Regions from separate parts of the Homo sapiens genome. Here all the other regions are reported to be linked to region 1. Evidence: microRNA targets listed by miRTarBase, many of them from high-throughput screens and not tested one by one. Region 1 holds a microRNA gene; each other region holds the end of a gene's coding sequence.
The links. Region 1 holds the annotated microRNA hsa-miR-1-3p (UGGAAUGUAAAGAAGUAUGUAU, at 2,141-2,162, opposite strand). A microRNA usually pairs through its seed, bases 2 to 8, with sites in the 3' UTR of a target mRNA and lowers its output. Matches are read on the target gene's strand: a 7mer-m8 pairs with bases 2 to 8, a 7mer-A1 pairs with bases 2 to 7 and ends in A, and an 8mer does both.

Region 1 (8,095 bases):
GCCCCACGCCAGTTTGGGGTTCCCGTCCTGGCTGCTGCCCGGGAGCCAAGCTTTAGAGATTCACGCATGGGAGACTCCAGCCCCGGGTCCCAGTGTCTCCAGGAAAGCAGCAGGATCCCCAGGGAGCACCATCAGGCCACACGTGCAGGGGAGAGGGGCTCGGGCTGCCATGGGCGGTGTCCGTGCAATGCTCATTTTTAATTCAGCAGATCAGAGACTGGAGGTGATTTACCGCCAAGCAGGCCGCAGCTCTCTCCCTGTGAACTCTCCAGTTTTACTGCTCAGTCAAACCTAATTCCAAAACACTAATGCTTTTATTTAAACACCACATCCTGCAATAAAGCTTTAATGTACAACAGCCGCATCTAGGGGAAAAGAACGGTGTGTCTGTGGCCACCGGCAGCCTCGGTGGCCACACGCCCGGCTACTTCCCTCCCTGTGGCCGGAGCTGGGAGCAGGCAGGGAAGAGATGACGTCAGCGGATGCTGGGCACTGACCCTCCGGGTCCAGAGGCCGAGAGGAGGCTGTGCCCGAGGTCAACACCCGCCCCCTTGCTGCTACGCCAGATGGGGCTGAGGCTGGGAGAACGAAGTTTCCAGAAGGAAGACCTGAAGGCCAGGAGCCCTGACTGCCAGGCCCTCCCCTCCAGTCACCTCGAGGCTCCCTGAGGGGTGGGAGCCACCTGAAAGCTCAGAACGGCCCCCAATCCCTTTATCCAGCGCTCCCTATGCTGGCCCCAGCTGCTCAGGTGACCTGGCTGCCCCCAGACCCAAGGCCTCCAGCCGCTGCAGGAGGGGGCTGCCTGCCTGTCCCTTCCCGCCTCATTCCTGCCGAAGGCCAGGGTGCGGGAGGTAGGGCACAGGGGCACCGCTGTGGCTGGAGCAGTGCCAAGGCAGAGAGGACACACACCCCAGAAATTAATCCTGAGGCCTGTGGCAGGGTGGGGGTGCCCAGGCAGGGACCTGGCCTCATCCCAGGTGGCAAACGCCTCCAATCTGAGACTCAGAAACGAGCCGGGCAAACGCCCCTCACACAGCAGCCCAGCCGCTGCCTAAGACCCCAGAACCCGCCGCCCATCCTCTCCTTGAAGGACCAGCACTGGGGAAAAGGGTTTCACGGACGGATCCGGACCTGCCCTCATCCCCTGGGCCCCAGGACATCCTCCCAGTCCTTTCTCGGGTCAGGACTGGGATGGCGGCAGAGCAGATGGCTCTCAGGCCCCCGACAGGTGGGGCAAGGGGCCCTGGGCCACACGCTGCTTTCTGCCAAAGCCTCACCTGCATTCACAGCAAAACATGCCTCAGGTTGGATTCGGCGGAACAGAGAGAAAGCTGAACCGGGGCTTTGGTGGGGGTACAGGTTGGGGCGGCATGAACCAGACATTTGGCAAAATCGAACGGCTCCCAGGCCCCTGGGGTGGGCTGTGGGTTCAGGGCTGCACAGACTCAGCTCCTCTGACCCTGTCCCAGGTGCCCTCGGCAGAGGAGTGGGGCCTAAGGGCAGTGGTGGCCCTGACCCTGCCCGCGTCCCCAGCATCTCGTGTGGGCTGCGCCTTCCTTGGAGGCTACATGCCTCCGAGTTCCTCTGCCTTGCCCTACAGCCGGGAGGGCTGGATGCAGGTGCAGGAGGTGCCTTCCCTCCGCAGACTCTACCATGTGCTGCCCAGCCTCTCCCTCCTTTCTGCATCCAGCCACCTGCCCTTTTCCAAACTCGCTCTTGTCTTGTGCCTCTGAGCAGTTTCTGCCCTGGCCACACGTGGCCCTTTCTGCCGGCTGATGGCCTCTTCCAGGATGGCCATCAGTGGAGCCCCCAGAGCCGCCGCCACCACTCCGTGCTTTCCAGCCACGGCCCCGACCCCCCAGCCCTCACCAGCCCCGCGCTGGACCCCGCGCCTGCCGGAGGCCGCCTCCCCTCTGCCGCAGTCAGCAAGCTGAATATTTAATGTCTGGTGAGCACTTCCACCTGCTGACACAGGCAAAGTGACAGAACAATGCTGGCGGGGACACGACCGTCCACCAACGCCCAGGCAGCCTGCCGCCCCAGCCTCACCCCCACCACAGCCGCCTGGCTGGCTGTCGGCCGCGGCGGCCCCCGTGGTGTGGAGTGCCCCTCAGTGCGGCGAGAGAGGTCCCGGCCTGAGATACATACTTCTTTACATTCCATAGCTTAGCAGGTCCATATGGGCATATAAAGAAGTATGTTTCCCAAGCAGGCAGTCTGCATGCAGTTCCAAGACCCCGGGACGCCGCCCCGGTAGAAGCTGACCCCACTGCGATGTAGAGAAGGCAGCTCAGAGGCAGTGTAACTTCTTCCCTGGAGTCTACTGCCGGAGCCCTCTCTGTGTGAGCAGGACAGCCTTCCTGCCACTGCTGCCTGGTGTCCAGCCACCCCCAGGGGCCCAGGACTCCCTGCCCCCTTCTGACCTCGGCGCCCCTCCATCCCTGAATCCATCTCTCTCTGTCTGTCTCACACACTCACACGATCCAGAAAGGCAGAAGTGGACAGTGAGCCCCAGAAAGTCTCGAGCGCCTGTCCCTGGCCCCAGCAGTAGCTCGGTTTTGCGTCCATGGAAGAGACAGGCTGCCCCTCCACCCTCACCCCAGAGCAGGGAGGCATCATCCATGTCCCAAACTTTCAAAGCCAACACTTTCCTGTCCCCCTGGGTCACCTCATCCCAGCCAAGCCCAGAGAGGGCTGGGTGGAGAGAGGAACCTTGGGGGGCGCCCTGCCCAGCACCCCACTCGCAGGACCAGCCTCCTCCTTCTCCGGGAGCTGGACAACTCCTTGCTCCTGAGGCCAGACGAGGAACTGCAGACCAGAGACCCGAGAGGTGTCCTGGGGGCTTACCTGGGCATCTGCTGGTTTCCTGGGCAGGTCCCTGGTGAAGGCTGCCTCCCGGGACCCCGTATCCATGAGGAAGGGCTCAGCACCTCTCTCCGAAGATGCAGGCGAGAAAGACGATGCTTGGAGGAGTCCAGGTTCCCAGAGGGTGGTCAGGATCTCCTGAGAGGCCGTCCACTAGGGGGGCAACTCCCTAGGTGCCTCAGCCTGGCCACAGCAGACACCCAGTGGGCGAGGGAGCGTCGCTCCCCCGGTTCTCTCCCTCCTTCTCTCGCTCTTCTTCACCCTCTCCCCCGTCCCCGCCTCGCAGCGTCACCACCCTGAACCGCCGCGCAGTGCGGCCCACCTGAAGCGGCAGCTGCGCAGAGCCAGCAGCTTACATGGGCACCGGGGGTCAGCAGCCACCGTCACCTGCCCAGCGCCACTGCCGTGGCACCCCCGGGAGGCTGGTCCCACACCTGGCTCTTTGTGGCCAGCCGCCCAGCCTCCACCAGCCCCTGATCAATACCAATTTACAGTCAAATGCAGGGGGCCGCCTTCCTGTTAATGAATTTCCCGGTGCTCACCAGCTCCTAATGAGCCTGTTAAAGAGGGTTTAAGTAAACTTAGCGAGTGGCAAACTAAGCACTTTGGAATACTTAATTGTATCGATATGTTTTTCATTGCGTTTAAAAATGTCTCTGAGTGGGAAGCAGAGGCTGCCTCCTTCCCTGCCAACTTCTATGACCAGCCGTGAAGCCAGACTCTGAAAAATGTGGAGAAAGAGCCAGAAGGAGACCAATGGGACCTCAAGGTTAGGCCCTCACCAGCAGGAAGGGAAGCCGCCCCGAACCTGCTGGGAGCGGGGAGAGGAGGAGGAGGAGGAGGAGGAGGCCTGCAGGGTTTCGAGGCCTCGCAGTGGCCCAGGGCGAGCCTGGCACGTGCGGTGGTGAGAGGTGGAAAGAAGGCTTTGCAGGTGCCTGGGGGGGACGGGGGCCAGGGAGGCGCCAGTTGGGGGTGCAGGCCGGGCACAGACACAGGAGGCTTGCTAAGCGGTGGGGTCCAGCTGGGCCCTGGCCCCTGTCCTGCCACTGACCCTGGCGTGGGGTGGGACAGCAGCCCCGGGACATGAAAGGACCTCCCGTTGTCCTCATCAGGAAGAGAGGTCCAACATGACTCTGTTGCTCCTCCAGGCAGCCCGTCCATGCGAGGGGACAGCCCGGAGCGAGTTGGTTCTCTCTTACCACCCAGGGCAGGGCAATGTCTCCGCAGAGCCTGCAGTGTGCAGAGGCCACTGAGCATGCTGTGGCTGTGTGGCAGTGGGTCTGCAGCTGGGCATGGCTGGGTTGGAGTTTCACGTGGGGGTGGGTGGGGGCGGGGGGTGGGGGTTGTGCTTAAGGCTCTGGAGGCATCCCCTCTACAAAGGAAGGAGCAAATGGCAGACAGAAGCAGAAGCTGATGTCCCATTTCCACGTAGCTGCTGTGATTTATCATTTTCACGTAGCCAAGGATACAAAAAGGGCACCCGACACCGCAGCCTGAGCTTCAACTTCGGGGGCACCTGGGTTCCGCCGCTCATCTGTGCCCTCCCAAGACCTCCGCAATAACCGTCCCCGGAGTCCAGGGAAAAGGCCTCCTCAACGTCCCCAGCTCCCTGGCACATGAGCTCTCAGAGCCTGGGACACTCCCGCAGCCTGGCTCAAGCCCCCACGACCTGTGAGGCATTCATCTGGACGGGGTCTGGGGGTCAAGGGGAAAGCTGGGAGTCCCAAAGGGCAGGAGAGTCACCCCAGACCCAGCCAGAGTCCACAGGACTTCTGCCCACTCACAAATGAATTGTAGTCACTTTTCAAAAAGTTTCCCGTCTGCATAGAAAAAGAGCACCCAGCCGCCTCCAAGCAGACCCCACCGTGAGCCGAGCTGGCTCCTGTGCCCGGGGCCTCCTCCGGGGCTCTTCAGCGGTGAATACCGCCCGGCCCCCGGCATCAGCGCCGCGGGAGGCCACGCGGGAAGTCAAGCTCCCCAGCAGGGACCTGCACAGACGCCGACCACCAGGGCTGCTCTCCCCGAAGCCCCCCTAGTCTCCGCCCACATGTGCCCCCCGCCCCCCACCTCGCCGCCCTGCCCCTGTAAACGCCTCCTGACCCTGACGTGGCTGGGAGAGCTGCAGAAGTGCCGAGTCCCGGCCGGGGGCAGCCTCGCCGCCGCTCAGCTCGGGAATCCCTGCCCCCCACCAGCACCTCAGTGGGGGATACTGCAAGTTCAAGGTAAGTTTAGCCCCACGCCCGGCTGCCGGGGCTTTGTTGCGGAGCGGCAGGTGAATCGCGCCCCCAGCCCAGCCCCGAAGCCCCCATGCCATCCACTGCCCGCGTGGGGGGCCGCTGCTTTCTTGCAAAATGCCCGCAAGTCAAAGTTCCTGCCTCCCAGCTGGACGCGCCCTCCAGGCCCTGCCGGCTGCTGGCTCTGCAGTTTTCCAAATGTGGATGATGCCGCGAGCCAAGAGAAAACTCCACGGCACCCCCGCCGGAGCCGCACGGCGCCGGCACCCGCAGCACCCACCTCGCTGGCAGGCACACCCCCCACCGCGGTGCCCGGCAAGTTTGCAGGGGCCGTCCCGGCGGCCCAGCGGTGGTGATGGGCTGAGCAGGACTCACCGCGGAGCCCAGGGCACCCCTGGGGCCGGGCTGGTGACAGCGGCAGCGGCGGCGGGCGCAGGGTCGCGGCTCCCTAGGAGATGCTGCAGCGGCGGCAGCACCAGCCACCTCCTCCGGGAGCCAATCGCGAATGCAGGGGTGGGGGCCGAAGCTCGATGCGTCCGCACTTGGTGGGGGCAGAGAGAGAAAGAAGACACCAGGCACCCCCTCTCCACACCCCTGCCCTTCCCCCAGCCCTCCTGCAGCAGCGCAGACTTAGCAGGAGGGAGATCTTGAGAGAGAGAGAGAGAGAGAGAGAGAGAGAGAGAGAGAGAGAAGGCGCTGGTGCAGAGTTAGGGAGAGGCGGCCGAGCTGCACACCTTGAGCCCCGGCCTCCTCCGAAGGGAACCCCTGCACCCCAGCGGGGTCAGCACAAGGTAGAGAAGGTAGAGGTCAGGGTGGAACAAAAGGGAAGGTCCCGCGGGTGTGCACGCTCTCGCAGGCACACAGCCGGCTCGCGGAGACACAGGGGCGGGGGAGGGGAGGGGAGGGGAGGGGAGGGCCTGACCTGAGAGGCCAGAGCGGGCGTGGGGGCCCCCCTCGGGTCAGGAGCCGGCCTCACCTTTGCAGTTCTTATATACCCGGCCAAGCATCCCAAACACGCGGCCCTGGCCAAGTGGCCCCCTCGGGCTGCGCTCCCTGACCATATTTAGTCAAGCAGGGGAAAAAATAGCCTGTCAGCTGGGCCGCGGCTGGCCCGGCCACCGGGAACAGGGTGGGAGCACCCACGCCATTGACGGCGGGTCCCGGGCTCAGGCTGCTGTCCTGCCCCTCCCGGCCCCTCCCTGACAGGCCTCCCACCGGCTGTCCCTGCCCGAGATCCCCCCGCTATTTTTAGCCCAGCCAGTACAGAGGCGCCTCCTCAGTAGCCGGGCAGCAGCCTCCATGCCATGCCAGCCGGCTCCTAGGGTGCCCTGGGGAGACCCGGGCATCTCCCAGGCTGCAGGGCCGGGGGTGGGGGGGGCGGGCAGAATGGTACGGCCTCCTTCGCTGCTCTGAGCCTCCAGTGGGCTGAGCCCACCCAGGCCACCAGGAGTGGGTGGCCCCCTCCACAGTCCCATCGGCTCTGCCCTTTTGCCTAGAATTGGGGCCAGGATCAGGTGGTGACAGAGCCACCTGGGTTTCCGGAGACTCTCAAGCCAACCCCAAGTCATGACAAATGCCAGTCGCCTTGGACAGAGGCAAGGTCAACCTGCTTGCCGCCCCCAGCCAGGCCCTGCCACCAAGGGTGTGTGATGGGGAGACCCCAATCCCGGGTGCTGGACGGGCTCAGGAGCTCCCCCTTCCGGGATTTCACGCCCGAATTATGTAACAGACGAGGGCCTGGGACGGGGCCTGACGGGGATCTGTCCTTGCAGGGCCTGGACGCAGAGACCAGAGGCCTGAACTGGCAGACTGTCCTCACAGGCTGTGTGACGCTGGCTGGTCGTCCCATCTCTCTGGGGCCCCACAGGACTGGGGACCAGGTCGTGGAATGACAGTGGACCACAGTGGTCCGGGGACCCCGCTCGTTGGTGGCAGGCACAGGCCCGTGTGATGGGGACAATGAGCTTTGGTATTTGTGAGTCCTGTCCAGAGCATAGGTCCTCCTGTTCAGAAGCCACCTCATAAATGTCCCCAGTGCCTCCCGGACTTAGGAAGGCATCCCCTTGTGGTTCTGGCCAGTTAGGGACACAGGGCCGGGGAGTCTATGCCGCTCAGAACAGGCTCAGCTGCATCTAATCCCAGGGGAGCCCCTGAGGAGCCTGCACACCCCCCAGGCTGGCCCACAGGAGCTGAGGCAGGGCTCTCCTCCAGGTTCACCTCCTGGGCTCACGGCCCCTTCCCCACATCCCAAGGCCGGCTCTGCAGAGTCATGGGGAGAAGCCGGAGCCCCAGCCACACTCGCCACACACGCCGACACCCACTCTGGTGTCCTCCGGCCAGCGACAGCGAGGGACAGAGGGACGCCCCCTGCACCTGCCCAGTGCAGAGGCTTCTTGAGTGATGCCAGGCCCTTCTCCCAGCCCTGTACGCCCCGCTAAAGACCCCATGTCTCACCATAAAGGAGGCCAGGAGGTTTTAAGCTTCTACCTGGTCTGAGCACTTTTCTGGAAACTAAATAGCCACTCGGCTTCCCACTGGCAGCGGGAGAGCGTGGTGTGAGGTGTGGTGTCCAAACTCCCCCTGCAAGGCCCCTCCCCTGCAGCCCACTTCCTCCTGCCTGCCGTCTCCAGGCAGGGTTGAGGGGGGCAGGCCAGGCCTGCAGCTGGGGTCAGGGGCATAGACAGCCACAATGGGGGAGGTGGGGAGCAGTCTGCAGGCCTGGGCAGGCGGCTCTGTAAAGGATGCGGGTGCTTTGTGGTGGTGAGAGAGAGGGTATGCAGCAGACGTGGCCATAAATCACCCTCCTCACGGCAGCCCCACACCCACGGACCAGGGCACGGGCACAGGGCCATCTCCTTCCAGGAGAAGGGCTGGTGTGGGTGGCCAGATCTGACAGCCCCCAGGCCGTAGGACAGAGCCAGAAGACAGAGCAGTTCCCCCGTTTACCCATAGCACCAGCCTCACAGTAACAGCCGGCACACAGCACTTAGGCTGCC
Region 2 (8,095 bases), not on the chromosome of region 1:
TTTTAAAGATGGTTCCTAACAGGGAGAGAGAGATGGCTACACTTACGATTCATTATATGGTTGACAAAGGTCAAATATTCATAATTTTGCAACTTGATCCTATTTCCCCACAAAATTCATCCTTCATAAAATGTGCATGGCTACAGTTTACAGTCTTGAGTGTTATGGGGACTTTCTGGAGACCTTTCAGTCAGTTTTGTGCCAACCTTTTAATAGGCTGGATCAAATCCACCAGATTCTTCCTCTATAAGACTGATAAAATCATTTCAAGTTTGCTATCATGATTTTGTGACAGCAGCTAATGAATACTTTGTAAATTATTTTGTAAAACCAGATGGTCTCACGTTTATACTGTTTATACTAAATAGACCGTAAACTCTAGATTCTAAAGTAACACACACACACCATACCCCTCTATATTGTTTTATAGTTTTATTTTTTTTAAATGACAGTTACAAGTGCTTTTCCCTTGATGGGCAATGACGTAACTATTTTCAGTTATTAGTAATGCCTTAAAAAGTAACAGCATTTTGTCTAAACTGAACTTATATAATTGCACAAAAGTCATGGAAAGCATTAAGAAATGCTGGTAAAGATTGAAGTTTTCTCAGATTCTTGCGCAATTCCAAGAAGCCTTGATTCCAGTGGGTCCTCTGATTCAAACAATAATGATGCTCAAACTCAGTGACACACAGGTAGAGAACAGCAGCACAACCAGGAGAACCCATGTGGTTTGTAACAGTGAAATTCTGCTCTACTGTTAAGGTTTAATGATGCATTCATTCATCTTTTCATTAGGAGCATAAAAAACACCTCAAATTATATTTTCTCAGGCTTAAAACTTGTTTTGAGCTATGGATTCTACTTCAGGAAACAAAAATTAAAAAAAAAAAAACACAATCACACCATAAAAACCTCTTCTAAGCAGGTTCCTTTATGTTGCTACTGTCTGTGGTGCCTGCCTAATTTTCTAATAGACACACAAACGAATTACATTCTCAGCTATCAGACACTAGTTGAGGGACAGCAGATAGGTTCTAACTCAAATTCTGTTTTATTGGCAGAAGTTATTGGAAACACTGTTACAAAGGACTCCGAGGTCACCGCTGGACTGGTGAACAGCTCACTGTGCTTTCTTCTCCATCTCTGACATGGGAACAGGAGGGGGAGAAGCAGCATTTGTGCTTCACATTTCTGATCTCTGTATTATTAACAAAGCTGAACAGGGTGTGGGTGTGGATATTTGGAAAGACATAACAAAGGTACATTTTTCTGTTTTAATAAGTTGCAATGTCTTTAGATGGAGGTTTAACATGTTTTATTTGTATCTTAATCTCAAGACAGTATTTCTACGGTGAAGGTTTTTCCCTTTCTCACCTTACAAAAACGGAGAAAAAAGCAAGGTTTTGAAGGAAGATGCACACACAGTACTTTAAGTTACTCTCAGAAGCATTTTCCTAACGTGGATACTATGATTATGAGAGGAGGAGAGTTCTCACTCCAGTTTTTCTCTTCTTTTTTATTGAGACAGGGTCTTTCTCTGTTGCCCAGGGTGAAGTGGCACAATCATGGCTCACTGCAGCCTTGACCTCCTAAGCTCAAGCGATCCTCCCACCTCAGCCTCCTGAGTAGCTGGGACTATAGGTGCAAACCACCACACCTGGCTAACTTTAAATTTTTTTGTTGAGACAAGGTCTCTCTATGTTGCCTAGGCTGGTCTCAAACTCCTGGGCTCAAGTGACCATCCCTCCTTGGTCTCCCAAAGTGCTGGGATTATAGCTGTGATCCACTGCACCCAACTTTACTATAGTATTTATACTGTTGTGTTTCAAATAAAGAACACAGTCTGTTTCCTAATTATGGTGACAAAATAGTAATTCCTGAAATAAATACATAAAAGTATGTGACACTGGATATCCAGATATGTTTCCTTCATTTAGGTGGTATTGTTAATGATCTAACCATGTATCTTCAATTCAGGGAGAAAAATTCCAGTAGTAACATTTGAGTAATTTTTTTTAAGTTAAGATTTTTAATAGGAATGCCTGGTATATATATTATTTATTATACTTAGAACTAAAGGCTCGGCTGGGCACGGTGGCTCACACCTGTAATCCCAGCACTTTGGGAGGCCAAAGTGGGCAGATCACGAGGTCAGGAGATCAAGACCATCCTGGCCAACATGGTGAAACCCTGTCTCTACTAAAAATACAAAAATTAGCTGGGCATGGTGGTGCGTGCCTGTAATCCCAGCTACTTGGGAGGCTGAGGCAGGAGAACTGCTTGAACCAGGGAGTTGGAGGTTGCAGTGAGCCAAGATGGCGCCACTACACTCCAGCCTGGCGACAAAGCAAGACTGTCTCTGGCTGGGGGCCGTGGCTCATGCCTGTAATCCCAGCAGTTTGGGAAGCTGAGGTGGGTGGATCACAAGGTCAGGAGATCAAGACCAGCCTGGCCTGGCCAAGATGGTGAAACCCCGTCTCTACTAAAAATACAAAAATTGGGTGTGGTGGCAGGTGCCTGTAATCCCAGTTACTAGGGAGGCTGAGGCAGGAGAATTGGTTGAAGCCGGTGGGTGGAGGTTGCAGTGAGCCAAGATCACACCACTGTACTCCAGCCTGGGTGACAGAGTGAGACTCTATCTCAAAAAAAAAAAAGAACTAAAGGCTCAACACAAATAAATGATAAATGTTCAATGTGATGGATATGCTAATTGTTCTGATCTGATCATTATATATGTATCAAAACATCATTATTTACCCTGTAAATACGTACAATTATATGTCAATTAAAAACTTTAAAAAGGCTGGGTGCAGTGGCTCACGCCTGTAATCCCAGCACTTTGGGAGGCTGAGGTGGGCAGATTATGAGGTCAGGAGATTGAGACCATCCTGGCTAACACAGTAAAACCCCATCTCTACTAAAAATACAATAAACTAGCCGGGCATGGTGGCACGCGCCTGTAGTCCCAGCTACTCAGGAGGCTGAGGCAGAAGAATTGCCTGAACCCGGGAGATGGAGGTTGCAGTGAGCCAAGATCGTGCCACTGCACTCCAGCCTGGGTGACAGAGCGAGACTCCATCTCAAAAAAAAAAAAAACAAAAAAACCCCACAAAAAACCTTTAAAAAAAAAAAAAGCTAATATAAAGCCTTTACCTTAAAACTCTGAATTTATCTTATTCACTTTTTACCCTTAGAAGTTTATGAACTTGCAAAGGCAGTTGAAAACTATGGTAAGTCTTCAAGTCCCAGCTTTATTAAATGTAAGAGACCAGCAAACTTTAACCTAAATTTTAAGAATTTTAAGAAATATTTGGAAAATACTATTAGAAAAATAAAATTATTTGATATCCAGTAACAGTTAATAGCATTCTCTGTATTAAAAAATTACTAAAGGGAAATGGGTATGTCTGCGGCATGGCTGAGAATGAGTAAGATCACACACAGCTTATCTGCTCAACAAATCCTGAATATATCAGACAGCCCATAACATTGCTATGAGAAGTCTGATTCAAATGCTTAGCTGCTATAGTTAGTTAATCTGGGACTCAAAGGACAATATACCTGGGTCAGGGACTGAAAATCACCAGAAGAATTCTACAACAGCCTTTCTGCCTACCAATAACACCTATAGAACTTGACTGGAATCTAACCAGAAGTGTGTTTCATGTCCAAGTATGCTGCTATACATACAAGCTACCTAGGCTTTTAGCTAGAAAAGTTTAGACCATAGAAAATGATACAGGAGGTGCGGTGGCTCACGTCTGTAATCGCAGCACTTAGGGAGGCCGAGGCGGGCAGATCATGAGGTCAGGAGTTCGAGACCAGCCTGGCCAACACAGTGAAACCTCGTCTCTATTTAAAATACAAAAAAATAGCCGGGTGTGGTGGCAGGCGCCTGTATTCCTAGCTATTCGGGAGGCTGAGGCAGGAGAATCGCTTGAACCTGGGAGATGGAGGTTGCAGGGAGCTGAGGTCTCGCTATTGCACACCAGCCCCGGTGACAGTGTGAGACTCCGTCTCAAAAAAAAAAAAAAAAAGAAAAGAAAAGAAAATGATACAAGAAGAAAAGGAAATTCCTTATTCCTGGATTACAAATGAACAAAGGAAACACAATCCAAGGAAAGGGCTGTTGGGGGCACAGAGCCTGGGAAGTGAGCAGCCAGAGCTGTGGAGTTATTTCCCTCCCCTTTTTTTAAAAAGCTCTGGATTGAGAAATTGGAGGGAGGTGGGAAGGTGGGTATGGGGGATGGAGACTCCAGCTGTGCAGCCTCCATTCTGAGAGCTGCTTAGATAAGGTGCGCAAAGCCAGGCATTCCTAGGCTAGCACTGTCAGGATATGATTTGTATCACTTTTGTTTTCACATTATCTGTCTCTTGAGGAAGTCACTGCCTGTCTGCTTTTCACTCTGTACCCTGGGTTTCCCTGATAAGATAGGCAAACTTCCAGCATTACAGAGATTGTTAATCCCCTAGCTTGTGCTTCCCTAATACAAATTGTTTTTTTAAGAAACCCTCAAATTTGTGTTCTAACAATTGGCATGTTTTATACATCTTGACCTCATATCCAGGTTTAAAGGAGGTGAACACACTGGTTCTTAAAGCTTCCCTCTATCACAGACGCTCCTAAATAAGCTATCTGTGGTAATCTAGCCCTGTTCATCTTGCAAACTGAGTTGCTGTATAATTGTATCCAATGTTTGTGTTTAAAAAAATATGACTCTTACACCGGGCGCAGTGGCTCATGCCTGTAATCCTAGCACTTTGGGAGGCTGAGGTGGGCGGATTGCCGGAGCTCAGGAGTTTGAGACCGGCCTGGGCAACAGGGTGAAACCCTGTCTCTACTAAAATACAAAAAATTAGCTGGGCATGGCAGCGTGCACCTGTAGTCCCAGTTACTTGGGAGGCTGAGGCAGGAGAATTGCCTGAACCCAGGTGGTGGAGGTTGTAGTGAGCTGAGATTACGCCACTGCACTCCATCCAGCCCAGGCGACAGAGCGAGACTCTGTCTCCAAAAAAAAAAAAAAAAAAGAAGTATGACTCTTTACCACTGCACTCCCAGTGCTAGTATCAAAGAAAGATAAGAATCATAGGATATTTACGGGTACTTGGTAGATTCCATATTTTGTTTCTATTAGCACTAGAGGAAATCACAGAATGATAACAGGGGTACTTCTCTGAAAACTGGGCGCTACTACTGTGACTCTGACAGGGTACGTAAGTAGAGGATCTGCTCCTGCGCAGCACAACAGCTAAAAGGGTAACCTGTGAGGGTCAGTGCATTAAGAATCTATAGAGGGAGCAGGGATATCTGCGAAAGAAATCTTTCTTTTTTTTTTCTTTTTTTTTTTTTTTTTTGAGACGGAGTCTCGCTCTGTCACCCAGGCTGGAGTGCAGTGGCGCGATCTTGGCTCACTGCAAGCTCTGCCTTCTGGGTTCACGCCATTCTCCTGCCTCAGCCTCCTGAGTAGCTGGGACTACAGGCATCCGCCACCACGCCCAGCTAATTTTTTTTGTATTTTTAGTAAAGACGGGGTTTCACCGTGTTAGCCAGGAGGTCTCAATCTCCTGACCTCGTGATCCGCCCACCTCGGCCTCCCAAAGTGCTGGGATTACAGGCTTGAGCCACCACGCCCGGCCAGAAATCATTTTTTTCTTTTCTTTTTATTAATTTTTGAAGTCATCATTAAGAAATCAACTTTAAATTGAAGAGAAAAGATGGCAGGATGTCAGGATTTTATTTATTTATTTGTTTTTTTGAGGCAGAGTCTTGCTCAGTCACCCAGGCTGGAGTGCAGTCGCATGAGCTCAGCTCACTGCAACCTCCACCTCCCAGGTTCAAGCAATTCTCATGCCTCAGCCTCCCAAGTAGCCAGGATTACAGGCATGTATCATCACACCCAGCTCATTTTTGTATTTTTAGTAGAGACAGTGTTTCACCACGTTGGCCAGGCTGGTCTTGACCTCCTGGTCTCAAGAGATCCACCTGCCTGGACCTCCCAAAGTGCTGGGATTACAGGCGGAACCGCTGTGCCCAGCCCTGATGTCTGGATCTTTAGTATATACATATATAATTTTCTTTCTCTTCCATTTCCATCTTTATCAAGAATCTAAACACTTTCCAGGTCCCAGGCAACCAAATGGCAAGAAAAGCTCAGAAGTGTTTTGTTTGGTAGGTAGCTAGTGTTGCTGGAACCTGGACTGTGGCTGACTAGTAAGACTGCAGGACACCAGTGCCCCTGAGGGCTCATATGGCTCCAGTAGATATGCAGGATCTAGAATAGGTAGGGAGGAGTTACAGAAGGTATGTATTGGCCGCCCACAATCACCGAAAGATGAATTTTTGCATAGGCAGAGACCTTGGTAATTAGCTAAAAATACAGGCATCACACAAACTTCTTATGATATTGGGTTGATCTCAGCAAAAGTATAGAAAGGGAAGGACTTGAAAGAAGAAGTGAATTTTCTATATGTTTAAATGTGTTAACTGGAATGCATGGACATGTGTAACCAAGACCTTTATGTTTAAAAATTAAACTTGCTCTGATCATTAATTCTATAGAATTAATGTTACCAAAGCTGCAGTAACATACTATTCAAAAATTCATTTTCCCAGACTTCTAACTACTTAAAACAAAAAACCCCCCACACACAATTACATACATTCACACAGCTGCTATGCTCCCAAATGGAATGCATATATTAATGCACACACAGAGACACTCAGAAAGCACACGTGCAGGGCTGCCAGAAGACACCCATTTTGAACCTGAGGTGCATGTGGGCCGCAGTGAAGGTCAAGAAGCCTGGCTGCATATCTGTTCAATGTCATTCATCTCTTTGGGACAGTCTGCAGAAAGGATGAGAGGTGAGTCCTGAGTCACCACTACATCATCCTCAATTCGTACACCAAGACCCCGAAACTTCTCTGGGGCATCTTTGTCATCCTCTGGAATATAAATGCCTGTGAAGTAGAAAGAAGAACATGCTGTTCAGGAATGATAGTAACTGGGTGGTTTGGGGCAAGTAAGTTAACCTCTGGGTTAAAATTCCTTCCTCTGTAATACTGGATCTTTATGGTACCTACCTAGTAAAGCTGTGAGGATTAAATGAGATAATACATGTCAAAGTGGCTGGCATATAATGGTCAACACATGTTGGTATCATTACTAAAATTATTATTGTGGTTATCTTTATATTGGACTACAAGCTAAATACAACTACGGCAATGCTGATCATGATTCTGTCATATTCTAGTGGCTCAAGCAGGCCAATAAAGTTACTTAATTTAAAAGTACGTCAATATATGTGGGGGACAAGCAGATTATGTAAGTGCATTCTTCCCCTGCCTAAGAGTCCCTTGGAAAAAGAGCACCTTGCAAAAATAAAGACAAAATATATTTAAACTGTATTCAAAGAAACATTTAGAGATTATTAGCCTTGACAACTGGAAGCTGCAGAGACAGTCATTATAAGATTTAAATATATCTGATGTGTGTAATATAAAATACAAGAGAAACTGAAAGACTTTAATGTACATTTGGAAAAATGTAGGAACCCCAGGTACCCTTTCTAATCATGAAGTTAGACACATACCAGGGCTTTTTATATTAAACAAGTTGTAAACTTCCTCCACTATCCTCACAGATACTGCTCTGCGATTGAAAAAGAAAGATCAGCAAAGGAAAATGTAGCGCAGTCTAAGGAAGCGCCCATGTACCAAACAGATTGAACTAAATGATATATCTATGGCCACAGATAGCAATGTATGACTAGGTTCAAAGGGTGGCATAAAAGACATTTCACAGCCATAATTTATACAGAGATTAAAATACTTGAAATCTAAAATTTAGATCTGTTTTCAAAACAAAACCAGCATCAGTATTTAACCATCAACTCTGACAACATCAATCTTCACACACCATTGTGGTCACTGCTTCTCTTCAGAATCCTGCCCAACACCCAGGACCATTCAAGTTAGGTAACGTATCCGATTGTTAGCTTTCTCTGAAGCTTATGAGGAAGGCGATGGATACTAAGGAGTGGGATGGTGCTGGGTAGCTCAATGCAGCTTGCAGAGGTGTTGAAACTGAGA
Region 3 (8,095 bases), not on the chromosome of region 1:
AACATCTCATATAACTGTAGCACATTGTCAAAACTAGGAAACTGACACTGGTACAATCCACAGACCTGATTCACATTTCCTTAGTTGTAGTGTGTGTGTCAGAGGCGGCGGTGGAGTGTGTTCTATGCAGTTTTATTTCATGTGTAGGTCCATGTACTGACAACCACAGTCAAGATATACAAGAGTTCCATCACCATGATGATCCTTTTTATTGCCCTGTTACAGCCACACTGACCCCTCCCCACCCCCAACATCCCTAATCTCAGGCAACCACTAATCTGGTCTCCATTTCTACAATTTTTTCATTTCAAGGATGTTATATAAATGGAATCATACAATAGTAACTTTTTGGTCTGGGTTTTTTTTCACTCCATATAATTCCCTTGAGATCCTTCCAAGTTATTGGGTGTGTTAATAACTTGCTCCTTTTTATTGTTAAGCAGTATTTCATGGATCACAATTTGCTTAACCATTCACGCACTGAAGGACATTTGTTTTTTTCCTAGGTCTTGCTCATTACACATAAAGCTGCTATGAACATTTGAGTATGGGTTTTTGTGTGAACATAAGTTCATTTCCCAGGATAAATGCCCAAGAGTGAAATTACTGGATCATATGGTAATTTCATGTTTTCTTTTATAAGTAAACTGGGAGGTATTTTTCTGAATGGCTGTGAAATTATACATTACTGCCAGTAATATACGGGAGATAAAGTTTTTCAGCATAGTTGTCAGAATTTGATGTTATCACTATCTTTTACCATTCTAATAGGAGTTAGTGATATCATGATTTTAATTTGCCTTTGTAACCATTCTAATAGGAGTTAGTGATATCATGATTTTAAGTTGCCTTTTTCCTAATGGTTAATGATGTTAGAACATCTTTTCACTCATTTATTTGCAGTTTAAGTGGACTCTTTGGTAAAATGTCTGTTGATGTCTTTCCTTCATTTTCCATTTGGTTTGTTTGTTTTCTTATTGCTGAGTTTTGAAAGTACTTTACATTCTGGACACAAATCCTATATCATTGATCTATTGGTATATCCTTCATGTCAATACCACACTGTCTTGATTACTGTTGCTTTAGAATAACTCCTTAAAAATCTAGTAATATTAGTCGTCTAACTTGGTTCTTCTTTTGTGAAGTTGTTTGGCTACTCTAGGTCCTTTGAAGTTCTACAAACATTTTAGAATCAGTTTGTCATTTTACACACACACACACACACACATAGGCTGCTGGGATTTTGATTGTGATTGTATTAAATCTATATTGAATCTATATTTTGGGAATATGACATGACATCTTCACAATATTGAGTCTTCTGACCCATGAACAAGGTATATCATCTATTTAGGTCTCTTTATCATATCAGTATTTTGTAGTTTTCAGTGTACAGTATTTTTCTCATTTTTTTGGTCAGACTTATCCCAGGTATTTATGCTATTGCAAAGGTAGTATTGTTTATGTGATTGCAAATGTTGATTTTTTGTTTCAATTATCAATTTTTCATTGCTACCATATACAACTGATTTTTGTACACTACTCTGTATCCTGCAACCTTGACAAACTCACTTATTTGTTCTAGTAGCTCATTTGTAGAGTCCGCTGAATTTTGCATAAATAATCATGTCATCTGTGAATACATTTTTCTTTCTTTCTTTCCAACCTGGATGTCCATTATTTCTGTTTGTTCTCTGATTGCACAGTCTAAAGCCTTCAGTACAATGTTGAACAGAGGCGGTAAAAGCAGGCATCCCTGATTTGTTCCTGACGTTGGGAAGGTGGGGAATATTGTCTTTCACAATTAAGTGTGATGTTAGCTGTAGGGTTTTTGTAGATGCCCTTGATCAGATTGAAGAAGTGTTGTTTATTCCTAACCTTCTTGATTATCAGTAATGAATGCTGGATTTTGTCAAATGCCTTTCTGTATTGATTGATTATATGATTATTCTTTTTTAGCTTGTTTATACAATGAATTATATTGATTGATTTTTCAAATGTTAAGTCAACCCTACACTCCTTGGATATTCCCTCTTGATCATGTTTTATTACCTGTTTCTTATCTTGTAGGACTCAATTTGATAAACTGGCTTAGAATTTTACCCTATGTTCATGAGAAATGTTGATCTGTAGTTTTCTTTCCTGGTAGCATGTTTGTTTGGCCAGGGTCCTAGGATAATTTTGGCACTAGGATAATTCTGGCCTCAGATAATGAGGTGGAAAATATTTCTTCCTCTCTCTCTCCTTCTCTCCCTTTCTTTGAGTCAGGGCCTTGATTTGTCAGCCAGGCTGGAGTGCAGTGGTGTGATCATTGCTCACCGCAGCCTTCAATTCCTAGGCTCAAGCAATCATCCTGCCTCAGCCTCTCAAGTAGCTAGGACTACAGGCATGTGCTACCATGCCTGGCTAATTTTTTTTTTTTTTTTTTTGGAATCTCGCTATGTTGTCCAGTCTGTCCTTGAACTCCTGGCTTCAAGTGATCCTCCCACCTCAACTTCCCAACATGCTGGGAATACAGGTGCGAGCCACCACGCCTAGCCCTAGATTTTCGTTACATGTTTTTAAACTGTAATTTCAACTTCTTTAACAGATATAGGGCTATTCAGATCATCTACTTCTTCTTGGGTGAGCTTTGGTAATTTGTGCCTTTCAAAGGATTTGTCAATTTCATCTATGTTGAATTTATTGCTATAAAGGTGTTCCTAATATTTCCTTACTATCCTTTTCTATCTGTAGGCTCTTCAGTGATGCCACCTCTCTCATTCCTAGTATTGGTAACTTGTGTCTTGTTTCTTTTTTCCCTGATATATGTACCTGGCTGGAGATTTCTCAATTTAAAAAAATTTCCCCCCCAAACTCCCCAAATTTTGATTCATTCATTTTTCTCTATTTTAAAAATTTCATTAAGTCCCACTTTGACCTTTATTATTCCTTTTCTTCTGCTTACTTTGAGTTTTTCTCTTTTCTAGTTTCTGCTATTGATTTCTAATTTAATTCCGTTGTGGCCAGACAACATACTTTATGTGACAAATGTTTTGAATTTGAGACTTTTTAAATGGTCTATAATGTAGTCCATCTCTATAAATGTTCCATGTGTACTTGCGAAAAACTCTTAACCCACTTTACTTTTACATATATTATAAATCCCGTACTATGATTTTTGTTTGAACAGCTAAAAATTTTTCTCAAGTTATTTCTCAAGAAACAAAATTGAGTTGTTTCTCCATTTTCTCAAGAAAAATTTTCTGCTATTGTAAGATGCAATGTCCTGTAAATGTCAATCGGGTCAAGTTGATTGATAAAATTGCTGAAGTCTACTTTATTATTCTTATTGATTTTCTGCCTACTTGTTCTGTCAATTATTGAGGGTGGGGTATTAACGTCTGATAATAGTGGGTTGATCTATGTCTCCTTGAAGTTCTAGTTGTTCTTGCTTTATGTGTTTTGAAGCTTTGTTATGAGGTGTGTGTTGTCAGTATGAAATAACTTTCTTTAATCCTGGGTGATACGGTTTGGGTCTGTGTCCCTGCCCAAATCTCATGTCAAATTGTAATCCCCAGTGTTGGAGTTGGGGCCTGGTGGGAGGTGATTGGCTCATGGGGGTGGATTCCCCCATTTAGTGCTCTTCTAGTGATAGAATTCTCACAAGATCTGGTTGTTTAAAAGTGTGTGGTACCTCCCACACCCCTCCCTCCTGCTCTGGCCATGCTTCTCTTTCACCTTCCGCCATGATTGAGTTTTCCTGAGGCCTCCCCAGAAGCCAGGCAGATGCCCACTGTGCTTCCTGCACAGCCTGCAGAAACGTGAGCCAATTAGGCCAGGTGTGGTGGCCCATGCCTGTAATCCCAGCACTTTGGGAGGCTGAGGTGGAGAGATCACGAGGTCAGGAGTTCGAGACCAGCCTGGCCAATAAGGTGAAACCCTGTTTCTACTAAAAAAAGAAAAACAAACAAAAACAAAAAAACGAAACAAAAAAAAACTAGCCAGGCATGGTGGCGCATGCCTGTAATCCCAGCTACTCAAGAGGCTGAGGCAGGAGAATCATTTGAACCCAGGAGGTGGAGGTTGCAGTGAGCCGAGATTGCGCCACTGCAGTCCATCCTGGGCAACAGAGGGAGGCTCTGTCTCAAAAAAAAAAAAAAAAAAAAGAAGAAGAAGAAATGTGAGCCAATTAAACCTCTTTTCTTTATAAGCTACCCAGTCTCAGATATTTCTTTATGGCAGTGCGAGAATTGACTAATATGCTGGGAATTACTTTTTGCTCTATTTTGATTAATATAGCCACTTCAATTTTCATGTAACTAGTGTTAGCATATCTTTTTTCCATCCTTTAAGTATTTGTATCTTTCTATTTAAAGTACATTTCTTGTAGGCAGAATATAATTAGGTCATGTTTTTTTCAATCCAGTCTGAAAATCTATGCCTTTTAATTGGTGGTGTTCACACTATTCACATTTAATGTGATTATTGATATGCTTAGGTTGAGTCTCTCATCTTGCTACTTGTCTTCGATTCATCCTAACTGTTCTTTATTCCCTTTTACCTCTTTTTCTGTCTTCTTTTTGATGAATCAAGTTTTTAAAATAATTCCATTTTATCTTTTGATAGTTTAATAGGTATGATTTTTTGGTATGTCATTTTAGCAGCTGCTTTAGGGTTTACAGCACATATCTGTAACTTATCACACTCTATCTTCAAATGGTAGCACGTCACCTTGTGTATGAGAACTTTACAATAGCATGATTCTCCTCTCCTAATCTTCAAGCTATTGTGGTCATCCATTTTACTCTTACATATATTATAAATCCTACACTATGACTTTTATTTAAATAACTGTCTTTTAAAGAGGTTTAAATAATAAATGCTACATTTACCCATGTTGTTACTATTTCCAGTGCTTATTTCCTTCAGAAGGCAGGCATTTTCCTTCTGCCCAAAGGACATCCTTTAACTTTTCTTGCAGTGCAGACCTGTGGGTGACAGTCTTTCAGCTTTTGCAAATTTGAAAAGATCTTAATTTCTTCATATCCATTATTCTATTTTCAGTGGCGTCTAGTCTGCTGTTAAACCAACCAGTGGAATTTGCAATTTCAATTATATTTTTCATTCCTAGATTTGTTTGGCACTTTTTACAATCTGCTTCGTTGTTCTTATACTCATGCCATTTAACCCTCCTTATTTCTGTAAGCATAAAGCATACTTTATGGATGTGCTTGCTAACTTTAACATCTTAAGTCTTTCTGAGACTTAACGGCCTGCTTCTGCCCCTTGTTTCTGCTGGTTCTTGTCTATTTTACACTTGTGATTTTTTTCTATGAACTTACATTCCTTGAAACTCTCCGAGTTCCTCCAAAGACAATCTGTTTTGCTTCTGCCAGTTACCTGTAAGGCAGTAAAATCCTGTTATCACTTGAAATTTCCCTCTTGAGATTTTTTAAGACTATCCAGGTGGTGCAAACAAGCCACCCTAAAAACTGCTGTTATATATAAATCCTGTGGTTATATATAGGCTCTCAAGTAAGATGTTTTCCCCCAGGACAGAAATCTTCCTTGCTGTTCACAGGGGTTGGGGGGATGGGTGAAGCAGATGGATTTATTCCTAGTTTACCCCTACATTGCATCTATCCTTTTGGAGTCTCACTTTATGAGGTCTCCTGTTAGTTTTCCTCCCTTGGGCAGGCCCTGAGCTTTGTGTGCTGTTCTGCAGCCCCTTCCCACCCCAGGCTATGAGAAGAAAACTTCAATTTGGCATTTGGCAGATGCACTAAGGCGGAAAAGTGGCGTCAGTACTCCACTTACTTCTTTGGGTTTCTGCTTCCATTTACAAAAAAAAAAATTTTTTTTTCCCTTTAAGAACTCTTATTTTGCAGCTCTTGTTTTTTACATTAAAAAAATGGTTCTTCAGACAAAAAACCAAACACCGCATGTTTTCACTCATAGGTGGGAATTGAACAATGAGAACACATGGACACAGGAAGGGGAACATCACACACCGGGGCCTGTTGTGGGGTGGGGGGAGGGGGGAGGGAGAGCATTAGGAGATATACCTAATGTTAAATGATGAGTTAATGGATGCAGCACACCAACATGGCACATGTATACATATGTAACTAACCTGCACGTTGTGCACATGTACCCTAAAACTTAAAGTATAATAAAAAAAAAATGGTTCTTCATATGTATTCTAAAGTTTTAGTTGTTTTCAACTGGTCCTTATCAGCCTTACTGCTGGAAATAAAATTCTTTCAACCTGTTCTGTAACGATTTACAGTATCCATTGATCCCTCTCTGATCCAGAGGCATTAGCGTGAGAACACACTTAGGAACTAGGCTGGCCTGAGATCAAGTCTCAGGTCCACTGCCACTATAACTTCGGTAGTGTATTTACACACTGTGCCTCAGTTTCCTCAAAGGGTTGGTGTGAGATTCTAACATGGTAATATATAAACAGCACTTACAACAGGGACTGGCCCTGGTAAGGATGAGATTTCTTTTTATTATCTGAAAAAGTTGTAATGAACAAAATATATCTCAACCAATGGAGTGAGATGGGGACCAATATCCCCGGTCCCTGGACATCCTGGCCCAGTGTACCACATAGTAACCCACAACCCTGTGCTTATGTTGACAGAGAGAAATCAACTATGAGCTATTCACTGGACAGCAGGCCTTGCTGCCATCACAGATGGGTCTCAGGTGCAGGGCAGGATGCCAGCAAATGCTGATCTGAGAAATGTCACCATCACACAAGCCTGAGTGGACACACAGACCTTTTACCATTAAGAAATCTGAAAGCAAGCGTAAATGTAAGTAAACACGATTTTTAATTTTTATTTTTTATGGTGGACAGTGATCATTTGCCCCAACAGCCATCTGAAGCCAATAGTCCTGATTATTAAAAATCACAAAGTTATATAAATGTTCTCCTCCTTTTCGAAAACCATGTTCATTTTTTTCCCAAGAAACAGGGCTGTCTGCAAAGCCTTGAACGGACAGTGTAACCCATGGAGCTAACTTCGGTTCATCAAAGTAGTGACTGAAAAAAAGGTAGTTGTTAAACAGAGTTTTAAAAGAGAGTTAGGAATGTCTGCATTTTAAAAAATTTATTCAGGATAAGTAGTATTTCTGATATTCTAATAAAGCTTAGATCTTAGCTTTAATTTTTGAAAATCAAGAGGTGTGTGATAAGTTCCTGATGTCACACTGTGAACTCCATAAGGATTAACTAATATACAACACATGAAACAAACCTCAGCTGTTCCCACCCTCATTCTGGGAGGTCTTTAAGACAAAAAGAACCCAAAACAAAAAACCCCACAGGCGTTTAAGGATCCTTTCCCTCCTATTAAGAGTACTGTTCTCAGAGTCTCAGTTAACTGAAACGTTGCAGGATAATTCACCAGATTTTTCATATCCAGCCTTCCTATCGAAGAAAGTCAAAGTACTAAACCAATAAATGTGAAAAAGGATGTTGGGCTTAAAAAGGAAAACCTTCAAGACTTAAATCTGACATTTCAAAAGGGAAGACTGAGAAGATATGCTTACTAAATAGGATTATACTCAATGTACGGTCTTTGCAATAGGCGATTTGAGTTCCTTTCAATGTACATTTTATTTATATACCACCTCCCAAAATGAAAAAATCTATACTATTCGACATACTGTTCTATAGAGCACTGATGAGCGATATAAAAGGTAAAGAGTTCTCACCAGAGATGTTCCAATAGGAGACAGATCTTCTCTGGAAGTATGAAGCCAGTGATTGTACACAAATAAGCTTTTGCCACCACTGTGCTTGGCTCAGGACAGCAATAGGTTGATATGAAATTATTAGGCTCATTATTTCTGTCACCAAAAAAATAAAAGAGAGAGAGATAACACATGTATATCCATCACATGATCACTTCCAAAGTATTAAACTCCTATTAAAAACAAGCAGCAGGCCAGAGCCCTGGAAGACACAGGGAGTTCAGATACCCACAGGTCGACATTACTGAAGACGGCGCCGAGCCAGTCGAAGAGCTCCAGAGCCCGGCAGGACACCTCTGGCGTTCCCTCCAGCTCGCTGCTCTGCAGCACTGGGCACTGGAGATCT

Region 2: the mRNA of XPNPEP3 is a reported target of hsa-miR-1-3p. Seed matches in the 3' UTR shown: 7mer-A1 at 6,690-6,696 and 7mer-A1 at 6,489-6,495.
Region 3: the mRNA of RPP40 is a reported target of hsa-miR-1-3p. The part of its 3' UTR that is shown has no 7-base or 8-base seed match.

What each region holds. Positions count from the first base shown.
Region 1 is chr20:62,548,418-62,556,512 of GRCh38, reverse strand. MIR1-1 (microRNA 1-1) reads right to left here and starts at 2,207; the gene lies at 2,137-2,207. CRMA (cardiomyocyte maturation associated lncRNA) reads left to right here and starts at 4,952. Exons shown (of 7, transcript NR_033263.1): 1 at 4,952-5,087; 2 at 8,052-8,095. It overlaps MIR1-1HG (MIR1-1 host gene), which reads right to left and starts at 6,060. Exons shown (of 4, transcript NR_171007.1): 1 at 5,475-6,060; 2 at 2,848-3,048. RefSeq lists an enhancer at 5,098-5,973.
Region 2 is chr22:40,925,138-40,933,232 of GRCh38, reverse strand. XPNPEP3 (X-prolyl aminopeptidase 3) reads right to left here. Exons shown (of 10, transcript NM_022098.4): 10 at 418-6,964. The coding sequence ends at 6,798. Among named protein-coding and RNA genes, the nearest start is that of RBX1, 22 kb to the left of the region's middle.
Region 3 is chr6:4,988,241-4,996,335 of GRCh38, forward strand. RPP40 (ribonuclease P/MRP subunit p40) reads right to left here. Exons shown (of 8, transcript NM_006638.4): 6 at 7,982-8,095; 7 at 7,711-7,845; 8 at 6,477-7,036. The coding sequence ends at 6,838. Among named protein-coding and RNA genes, the nearest start is that of LYRM4-AS1, 12 kb to the right of the region's middle.